2 separate regions of the Homo sapiens genome follow, and region 1 is linked to region 2. The links come from fine-mapping of genetic effects on gene expression. A gene starts in region 2. The other region holds a variant in brackets. All regions are shown on one strand. Distances are between the middles of the regions.

Region 1 (5,371 bases), 33 kb after region 2:
GAATATTTCATTATGTAAATTATTTAATTTTTATGTAGAAAAAAGAAAATTATTTTGGTGTTTGTTTTGTTCTTTGCTCTATAATTTCCATTACATACTGATTAGATAATTTTTTGAGTATTTTAAATTTTAGGTAATTATGCATTTTATCCATAAAGAATCTGCATGTGAGAGAGAGAGCTATTTTCTCCTCACTTCTATTTCATCTCCATCCTGACCTCCCCAGAATCCTCAGCTCTTTGTGTAGTTGGATAGCAGTTTATAATTCCAGTAAATGGGCCTAATTCAATAATATACCACAAATCAGTTTGAAACCAGGACATGCCTTCAAGACACACCCAAATGCCTATATATATAATAATACTAAGTTACAATTGATGTAAAAAATAAAATTACAAAAGGATTGTTAAAGTAAATTCAAAGGGACATCAGGCCTAAAAAATCCCTGAGGAAATGTGTGATCAGAGGCTTTCCCAGGCACACACTGCTCTACAGCCCTACCACACAGGCTTAACCGAGAATTTGACCCCGGAAGGTGACGGATGAACATGTGTCCTGGTATTCTGATCTACAGAAATCCTGCCCTCTCTTAATGATCCATCCAGAGCTCTAGGATCGTTTCTAGATTTATTTACTACACACAGACTGGAAGTTTTTGACAGAAGCTTTGAACTGGGAACCCTACCCTGTTCCACCAGCTTCTCTAGAAGTACAATGTTCTAATTACTCCTGAGAGACTCCATCTGAGGGTAACTCTCTGAGCCAACAAGATTTAAAGTGAGAAGAGGAAAAAGGCAAGAGTCGGGCTATGTCTAGGATTCCCTTACCTGACTTATGTCTTTGGTTTACCCAAGTATTGATAAGATTCGTCTCTAGATGGTAGAAACTAGATGGAGGAGCACTAGCTCACAGAAGTAGACAATGGGATCAGTGCTCCATAGATCCAGCTTAAGCTCAGCCATGAGATACTAAGTCTCTCAGAAAAAAAAGTAACAGTTCTCCATCATCTACCCCCGTAGCCTCAGACAGCTAGGCAGTAAGCATGCATGCTCAATAAAACTCCACATCCACATCACAGAGAGAGATAGAACAATCCCAAAGGACCGTGAAGGGTGATGTGGAGAGACCAAAAGGATATGAACCCACAGCATCTGCCCTACCATCTGCTCCAATACTAACCCTGTCCTTTCCCAACATGATTTCCAGATTTTTCTTTGGCCCTCACTAAGGGTGATTCAGAAAGACAAAAAGTTATTAATGCCCTTCCATTCTCCATATCTCCTGAGGTCTCAGTTGTTTACTCTGCGGGTTTCGGGTAGCTATCCCTCCCCAACTACATCCACAAAATTAGTGTATCTCATTCAGCACCAAGAATTTCACCTTTATTCTGGTCACTCCCTACCTTCTCCTAGACATTTTATCTAGAAAAGCCAGATGAAATAGCGACAAAAATGTTTACATAAAACTCAACCACAACTAAGTTGGAGTATCATAATCCCACTTTGGGCTAGGTTGCCACTCAGCCTACTACAAACTAGGCTTGGGGCAGTTAGGGGAAAGCTAGGGTTTAGAGCTGATGTGAAAGTCAGCTAAAAGCTTGCTACCGAGCCCCTGTCAAGCTGAATCCTAACCCAAGGAGGACTGAGGGCTGCGTAGCTTTATATTCCACTTTTGAGGTGGGTGTCAGCTAAAAGCTTGCTACAGAGCTCCTGTCAAGCTGAATCCTAACCCAAGGAGGACTGAGGGCTGTGTGGCTTTATATTCCACTTTTGAGGTGGGTCAATTTGAACTCTCTGAAAGCCCGCAAAAGACTAGCTCTAAACCCTAGTCTAGTACAAACTAAGCTAGGGTTGCATTTAGCGGAAAGGAAGATTATCTTTTCTTTCTTTCTTTTTTTTTTTTTGAGACAGAGTCTCGCTCTGTCTCCCAGGCTGGAGTGCAGTGGCCCGATCTCAGCTCAATGCAACCTCCGCCTCCCAGGTTCAAGCAATTCTCCTGCCTCAGCCTCCTGAGTAGCTGGGACTACAGGCGTTCGCCACCATGCCTGGCTAATTTTTGTATTTTTAGTAGAACCGGGGTTTCACCATATTGGCCAGGCCGGTCTCGAACTCCTGACCTTGTGATCCACCCGCCTCGGCCTCCCAAAGTGCTGGGATTACAGGCGTGGGCCACTGCGCCTGGCCAGTGAGATGCATCTTTTCAGGTAGTCAGTGTGGAATCTCAAATTTGGGAAACAGATCTCTACAGCTCTCAACCATTTCATTCTTATCCTGGAGGCAGTCAAAAAGAGATTATTCCTTTTTAGAAAGAATTACATTCAGTCAACAAATTGTAACATATGGATCAGGAGAAGGAAAAGATGGTAAAATCAGCCAATTTTTAGTAGATTTGATGATAAAAGACACAACGTTGTCAGAGTGCAAATGGTTCTGAAATTTGAAAAGGTGACAGAGATTAGTTTCAAGGGACACATGGTGTGTCTGGAGTCAGTTTTTATGTTGATGGTGTGAGCAGTGACAAGGTATTAACAATACCTTCCAAAGTGAGTCAAAAGGTCGGTGAAGTCATTCTATTGAGAACGGTCGGGGGCCTCCCACA[C/T]TGTGAGACAAAAAGATCACCTTTCACCAAGAACCACAAGTCTGGCTGCAGTGCTGCCCTCAGCATTAGACATGGATTCAGATTCAATCCACAGCCTGGTTATAGTCAGTCTCTTCAGAGAACAGGCTCTTATTAAAAACTTCTGTTTTTTTTTTTTTTGACGGAGTTTCACTCCTGTCGCCCAAGCTGGAGTGCAGTGGTGCATTCTCGGCACAGTGCAACCTCTGTCTCCTGGGTTCAAGCGATTCTCCTGCTTCAGCCTCCCGAGTAGCTGGGATTACAGGCGCCTACCACCATGCTTGGCTAATTTTTGTATTTTTAGAAGAGACAGGGTTTCACCATGTTGGCCAACTCAAACTCCTGACCTCAGGTGATCCACCAGCCTCAGCCTCCCAAAGTGCTGGGATTACAGGCGTGAGCCACTGCGCCCGGCCAAAGACTTGTAATTGAGTGACTGGACACAGCAGTAAATCAGCTGCTGAGGTTATTTCCAGTTTGCAGCCTGAAAGGTTTCCTTTTTTCAGACAGTCTATAGTTTTTAATGCAAAAGACCAAACAGCTATAATGTGAGCAATGACCCTGAGTTCTGACCATTGAGTGGTGTGACCACCCCACTCAGGTTCCGCATGGCTGACACTGAAGTTCAGAAGCCACCATAGACAGTAGCTCAGTGAACACCATGTATTGGTAAAGCAGGGACAGAAATTTAGGGAATACTTAGTGAAGTGGGGGCCCCATAGAGCCAGAAGCTTTGCTTCATATAGTGCAGCAGGGCATAAAATTTCCACCAAAGATAGATTCCGATTTTCCCTTTAGAACTATTTCTGTGCCAGTCCAATTTCCTTCTAGAATACATTATTTATATTTAACAAGTAGTCTTTTGAGGTCTTTCATAAGAGTTCAAATTGACCCACCTCAAAATTGGAATACAAAGCTAGGCAGCCCCCAGCCCTCCTTGAGTTTGGATTCAGTTTGACTGGAGTTCTGTAGCAAGCTTATAACTGACTTTCACATTAGTGTAACCTGCAGTGGTGTCAGGGTGGCTATGAGTCAGACACCCCAAAGAATATCTTTAGGTGCAGGCTCTTTTTGTCAAAGGCCTCAAATGGCAAAGTGATCAAGTTTTTCTTGACTGCTGGAAGAATTAAGCAATGAAAATATGTCCACTTAGCTTCACTAAACCTTATTTGGAAAGCAGAACTCTGGGTTTTTTTCAGGTCTTCTTGTTATTGAGAAAACAGTGCTTACTATCCAATGTGCTAAGAGCCAATACATTGAGTTGTCACTGGATTTTTGTTTTTGAGACAAGCTTTATGTTGAAAGTTCACTCCCAAAGAGACAGGAGTCCCAAGCCCGAATCTGTCTCCCTCTGCTGGCATCAAGGCAGAATTTCTACTAGAACAGGTACCGGGGGGTAGCTTCTGAGGTTAGGAGGTGACTAGCGGATGATAATGGGAGGTCTGGAATGTCCATGGGCATGCCCAGTTATCTCTTCATGCTTCCTCATGGGTCATATGTGCAAATTTGGGGGGAGTTAGTAGGAAACATAGTGGAAATTCAGGCTATGATGTCAGCAAGCTCATTCTGTGCAGAGTCCCATTGGTTCTATTGGTTTAAACCAATTTCAGCTAATTACTTTTATCTCGTAAGTGGAGGGAATTTCAGTGTTTTAGCAAGTTTTTTTTTTTTTTAATTTGCCATCCTGTAAACTCAAGGATTTCTGTTAGTCATTGGCTTAACTTTTTTTTTTTTTTTTGAGTCGGGGTCTTGCTCTGTTGCCCAGGCTGGAGTCCAGTGGCACGATCTCAGCCCACTGCAACCTCCGCTTCCTGGGTTCAAGCCATTCTCCTGCCTCAGCCTCCAGAGTAGCTGGGATTACAGGCATGCACCACCATGCCTGGCTAATTTTTGTATTTTTATTAGAGATGGGGTTTCACCATATTGGCCAGGCTGGTCTCGAACTCCTGACCTCGTGATCCACACGGCTCGGCCTCCCAAAGTGCTGAGATTACAGGCGTGAGCCACTGCGCCTGGCTGCTTCTTTAACTTTTTGAAGCACAGTCTCAATTATCAGCTACATCTACTAGCAGAGAGATATTACTATTCTAGACAGGAGCACTGAGACAGACACCTCTGTCTTTGCAGCTAACAGCTCATGCAGGGTGAACATTTTGCATATCAGAGTGTAAAGGTTCTCATGATAAAGACTGACCTGCCCTCTGTGGCAAATGGAGAATTCTGTCTCTCTCACACTCTTCTACCTGTCTCCCACCCAGACTGGAATAATCCCCTCCGGCACTTAGGGGACAGGGAAGCACAAACACATACAACAAAATTCTAACTGTAAATTTTGGTGTAGAAACACAAGAAGACATTGAGTTAGCCCCAAAGGCCCCACCTCCATTGTTTTGTGACATTTCTGCTTTCATGGTGAACCCTGCCCAAGCCCTGTCAGTGAAGTTTTGGTATCAGCGAGTACATAGAGAGAGAGAGATTCTCTGCTTATAAGCAAGGCACCAACACCCACATTTCCTTTTAGTTTCTAGCAGCCTGTTGACTGCTTTCAGCAAAACCACAAGAACTTACAGTATTTTCTATTTATCCAAAGTGCTCTATCAGCTTTGTGGACTCCTCATTCTTTCCTACTTTGGCTAGGAGAATGAACATATGAGCACATTTAGACTGCTCCTTTCAATTCTCCCTCTCACACAACAACCTCGCTAACAGGTTGGCGAGTGGAGGGATCTTACTCTTACTCAACTCTCATTTGGGT
Region 2 (5,371 bases):
TCCCATTGCAGAGTTGTGTTAAACCTCCTTTTATGTTGGCAGTGGGAAAAATTAATATCTTACCTGACTCTCAAACCATATCATGCCTCAACTGTCGTCTTTTTACCTGCATTATTTCTGCCTTTAATAAAGATAATAGCATTTTACTGGTTAGGGCCCGAGAAGGAGTTTGGATACCTGTTTTCCTCAATAGACCTTGGGAGGCCTGTCCCTCCATACATATTATCACTGAAGTACTAAAAGGAATACTTAATAGATCAAAGAGATTCCTATTTACTTTAATAGCTGTGGTCCTGGGCCTTGCTGGTGTTGCTTTGCACTCTTCTATTCAAACTGCGGACTTTGTGGGTAGTTGGCAGAAAAATTATTCTAAGCTTTGGAATTCCCAAAGCCAAATAGATCAAAAATTGGCAAATCAAATTAATGATCTCCGTCAAACAGTAATTTGGATGGGAGATCGGATTATGAGCTTGGAGCATAGAATTCAAATGCAATGTGATTGGAATACTTCTGAGTTTTGTATTACTCCTAGCTCTTACAATGCCACTGAACACGATTGGGAGATGATTAGACGTCACCTACAAGGAAAAGAAGATAATTTAACATTAGATATTGCTAAACCGAAAAGACAGCTTTTTGAGGCATCTCAGGCTCATCTCAGCCTGTTGCCTGGAGCTGATATTCTTACTGGAGCCGCTGATGGCCTTTCTAACACTAATCCTTTAAAGTGGATTAAAACCATAGGTGGATCAACAATTGCAAATTTTATTTTGGTTTGTGTCTGTTTATGCTGTTTATTTTTAGTCTACAGATGCCGACGGCGCCTTGGTAGAGAAGCCAGACACAGTGAACGAAATAGCAATGGCGGTTATTAATAAAAAAAAAATTAATAGAGTCGGGCGCAGTGGCTCACGCCTGTAATCCCAGCACTTTGGGAGGCCGAGGCGGACGGATCGCAAGTTGAGGAGATCGAGACCATCCTGGCTAACACGGTGAAACCCCGTCTCTACTAAAATTACAAAAAATTAGCCGGGCGCGGTGGCGGGTGCCTGTAGTCCCAGCTACTCGGGAGGCTGAGGCAGGAGAATGGCGTGAACCCGGGAGGCGGAGCTTGCAGTGAGCCGAGATCGCGCCACCGCACTCCAGCCTGGGCGACAGAGCGAGACTCCATCTCAAAAAAAAAAAATTAATAGAGACAAAAAAAGGGGGACATATGTGGGAAAGAGAGTTTCTGGAATGCCAGATGAGTTGGTCCCCCCTGCGTGAGACATCCATGGGAAGCCATGGGCGGCCTCTGAGGAGAAAAGTCTCCTTTTTGCCTTCATGTCTTTACGCATGCCACAGGTGCTGGCGGAGATAACACTCCCTTGAAGCAGTGGAGTACAATCAAACATCTTGGCTGCTCCTGAAACCCGCTCCCACGCATTTCAGTCCGGATAAGGTAAAGATCTTAAATAGTTTAGACACACGCCTTTGCTAGAGGAAATTCACAGAAACCGCCACGGCTACACATCTTATTAAATGAGTCACGAGTTCTCCTTCATTGATTAATCCTTTTCCTCATCCCTTCTCACCCCTCCCATTTGCCCTAAGAACGAAGAGCTGGTAAACCAATAAATTGGGTGGAGGCCGAGAGCTCGGGGCCGCGAGCAAGCCTCCGACGCCCTGGTCCCCTGGACCCGCCGGTTAAACTGTGATTCTCTTTCTAAATCCTTTGTCTGCGCCGGACTCGGGGTACCCGCCGGGTGGTGTGGGGCTGGTTTCCCCACCAGCTCTCGAACTCCTGCACTGAAGCGCTCCTCCCGCTTCAGTCTCCCCAGTGGTTGGGATTACAGGCGTGAGCCCCCGCGCCCGGCCAAAGGGCCCCCTAGGACCGGCTGTCTCCCCCGACTACGCACCCTCGGCCCCCAGCCTCGCGCCAGACACGGCGCCGCAGCCCCAGCGCGCGGGGGTGGAGAGAGCCGCGGGGCAGGGGCGCCCTGTGGGTCCCGCGGTCACGCCGGATCGCTCGGCCGCAGTAGTGGGGCCCGGGCGGGCGCAGGGCCGGGCTACGGGGACCGGCAGGCGCGCGAAGGGCCCGGGGCGCCGGGAGGACTCGGGTTCACAGTCGCTCCCGCTCCGGAAAGTTTGCGGCGGCTGCCCCGGGAGGGACTTCGGCGGGGAGGAGGCGGCGGCGCCAGGTGGCCGAAGTCGGAGGGGTCCGTCCGCTCCCGCAGCCTAGGAGCGCGCCCTCCCCGCCGGTGCCGGGGCCCGTGGTGGGGGTCGCACCCACCGCCGCTTGGCCGGGACCGTCTTGGCTGGCGCCGCCTTGGAGCTCGTAGGCACCGCGCGCGGTGCGGGGAGCGGCCGGGGCGGAGGGACCCAGCGAGCCCGGGGAGGGCCGGGGTCCTGCAGGCGGAGGCGCCGGGGAGGGTGTGGGGTCAGGGCCCGCGCGGCGCTGCTTCTGCTCCCGAAGACTGCGGTCGGAGCTGGCGCAGCGGAGGGTGCGGCTCCCGGAGCGCGAGGCCGCAGCGGGGAGTGACCGGAAGTGGCCTCTGCAGCCGCGTCCCTGGGCCCATGTCAGGGACGGCTCTGGCTGAAGCAGGAGGACGGCGTTTGGAGGGTGGGGTGGGCGCGTCCTCTCGGCGGCCCGCGTGGACTGACAGCCACCACTGCCCCCACGCTGCCCTCGTGCCCGCGGTTCTAAGAAGTCGAATGCCAGGCGGAGGCGACGGGGCAAATGGCCCAGGCTTGGGAGGCCGCTGGCGGTCCAGGTCCCGCAGGATGTGGAGGATTTTCGAGGAGGGCCCAGGGGCTGGAGGGTGCACAGGCCCATCTTGCACAGGAGCCACGGCCCCGGCCTTAGCTGGGCGGAGCAATTCCGGTGCCGCCGCCCCTTCCCCGCCCGGCCATGCTCGGGCTCCAGGCGGGCTGCTGCAGGGGGCCTGATCCGGTGGACGATCGGCTCCTCACCCCGGCAAGGGCCCCCACCTCGGCCGCTGACAGCCTCGCAGGGAGGCCCCAGCGATGAGCAAGGGGGCTGGCGGGAGGACGGGAGGCCCCGCCGGCCTGAGTCCTGGACAGGTGATTGGCAGGTGAATGAGCTGGAGTGTGCAGCGTGCCTGGCTGGGGGCCAGGGAAGATCTGCCGGGACCTCAGGGGCTGCAGGCTGCCAACTGCCCGCCCCAGCTCTGGATGCCCTACTCGAACCTCAGTTTCCTCACCTGCCAGGAAGGACCCGTATGTCAGGGGTGTTTTGACGATTAAACTGGACAATCCAAATAAACTCGCATTAGCCCTCCTTGGCCGCACATCTTTCTGACTTTGTACGAAACTCTGGAATGCCTGTAGGTGGGGAGGCAGGCAGGCCAGACCTTGGCCCCTGGCTGCATTGTCCCTTCTGGGCGCCCCCACTCCTCCTGGGCCCTTTTAAAGCACATACCTAGCGAAACATCTGGACCTCAGAGAGCCTCAGAGAACTTTGTGCATTTCCAAAACCAAAATGCTTTCTTCCCTGACCCCATGTTCTCATCTTACTCCAAAACGCAAATTCCTTGGGCAGCCAGCTTCAGAAAAGGGCCTCAATTTGATGTTTGTTCTCTGGGACCCACCCCAGGGCCCTTTTGATGGAGCATCATTCCACCTCCATCCCCACCCCCTCCCCCCGGGGCTTCCCCCAGTACACTGGGGGCTCTTAACTGTAACAACCTGGATCTGGCCACTAGACTCCCAAGGCAGGGGACAGGGAACACAGTTCCCCCAGCAGACTGGCCTAGCCATGGCCTGATGAACAGTGATCTCTGGGCAGGAGACCCAGGACAGGAAATATCTCCGCCCTCTACTGTCAGACCCTCCTGCCTTCGGGGTGAGATCACCTTTTGCCACAGTGGGAAAAACAGGCACAGGGCCAGTGACCAGCAAAGTCAGGGAGACTGTGACCGGGAAACATGCCCAGGCGCTGAACAGCACTTCCAGGTTGCCACAGCCTTTGGGCGGTTCTTGGCATGTGGCACCCTGGTTGGGTCAGCACCTTGTGGGGTGGGGGTGCTGGCAGGAGCAGGTGCTGTGGGACCCACAGCAGGAGGGGAACATTTTCACCCTATCCTGGCACAGCAGTTTTGTTCTCTGATGTGTGTGATGGGAAAAAAAAAAATCAAAAGAAGAAGAACACTTTATGACACTTTCCAATTAGAAGTTTCCATGTCCATAGTAAAGTTTTCTGGGAGTGTAGCCTTGCCTGTTCATTCACATGTTGTCTGTGGAAGGCTGCGGTCACGCTGCAACTGCAGGGCCCCGTCCTTGAGACGGATGCATTGACAAAGTTGAAAATATTGACCCTCGGCTCTTTAGGGAGTTTCCAGCCCATGCCTGGTTTTGAGCACTGTCTGCTGAGACCCCAGGCTCTGGGCTGGCTCCTTCCTCACTCAGGGCTCCAGTGGCCTCTGCTGGTGTGCCTGTAAAGTGGGGGTGCCATGGGGCCTCCCTATGGGGGTGTTGAGTCCTGGAGTGCCAGGTTTTGGGGTCCCTGCATCACAGTTGACCATCTCCCTGGCAGAGATCCCAGTGCCTGATTCTGGCCAGTAGGAATATTTACTCTTAACCAATGGGGACACCTTGGAGCTGAGCTGCCACCCACCCAGCAGTGGTCCCATGACACCCCCTGTCTGGGTCAAGGTTGGGGCAGGGCTGGTGTCCTGAACTGCATCCTGATGTTCAGCAGCGGTGGCTGCTGGTGCTCAATGCCTTCGAGAGAACGCTGAGGCCAATAGCTGCTGGCAGCGGCTCACCCAGGTTGTGTGTACTGTGCCCTTCTGTGTGCGAGTGACAGGTGAGTGCCTGCAGGGGTCATACCAGGCTGTGTGGAGGGGGCCAGAGGTTAAAGTTCCCTGAGCAGCTGTGTGGTCCAGGAGCAGCCAAGGGGTCTCTGGAGGTGTGGCTGCCACAACTCTACCCTGAAGGTCTTGCTTGTCATTGGTGGAGAGGAGAGGACTCCCAGGAGGTGCTGCCTGAGGGACCCCATTTCCATCTGTGAGGGGCACCTAGGGTCCTCCTGGGGCGAGTCAGAGACTGGGCCCTTGGGGTGAAAGTCCCTTCTCTGGGCTGAGAAGCAGCAGGCACTGGGGCGTGGGCTGCCTCGGGGCCCCCGCCCACTCGCACCCTCTCCTGCACTGCAGCTGCCCTATCCTCAGGAGGTGAGGAAGATGGGAGGATGAGGCTAAGACACAGGCTGGCCGGGGGTGAGGCCTGCTCCTACCCAGCAAGCCCAGGCCTCAACAGGCAGGTGAGGGACTGAGGCCTGGGGCATGACCTCCCTAAGTCACCTCAGGGTAGAGAAGGAGCTGGGCCACCTAGATGGGTCTGTATGCCTGGCCCTGGGCTCTGGGTAGCAGGC

Direction of the effects. Positions count from the first base shown, and alleles are read on the strand shown. Sizes are in standard deviations (SD) of each study's normalised expression.
For the expression in substantia nigra of the gene that starts at base 3,008 in region 2, allele T in region 1 goes with a lower level than allele C (large effect, 0.75 SD a copy in GTEx).

What was found. PIP is the estimated chance that this variant, and not a neighbour inherited with it, causes the effect.
Region 1: its variant is the best candidate, but not a certain one, in a credible set for the expression of LINC02897 in substantia nigra (GTEx, PIP 0.76).

The regions. Positions count from the first base shown.
Region 1 is chr1:247,142,891-247,148,261 of GRCh38, forward strand. It overlaps a transcript of ZNF124 not described here. Among named protein-coding and RNA genes, the nearest start is that of ZNF124, 26 kb to the right of the region's middle. The variant C/T (reference allele first, on the strand shown) is at 2,599.
Region 2 is chr1:247,109,410-247,114,780 of GRCh38, forward strand. It overlaps LINC02897 (long intergenic non-protein coding RNA 2897), which reads right to left and starts at 3,008. Exons shown (of 1, transcript NR_167894.1): 1 at 746-3,008. FLJ39095 (a long non-coding RNA gene) reads left to right here. Exons shown (of 3, transcript NR_147502.1): 3 at 1-152.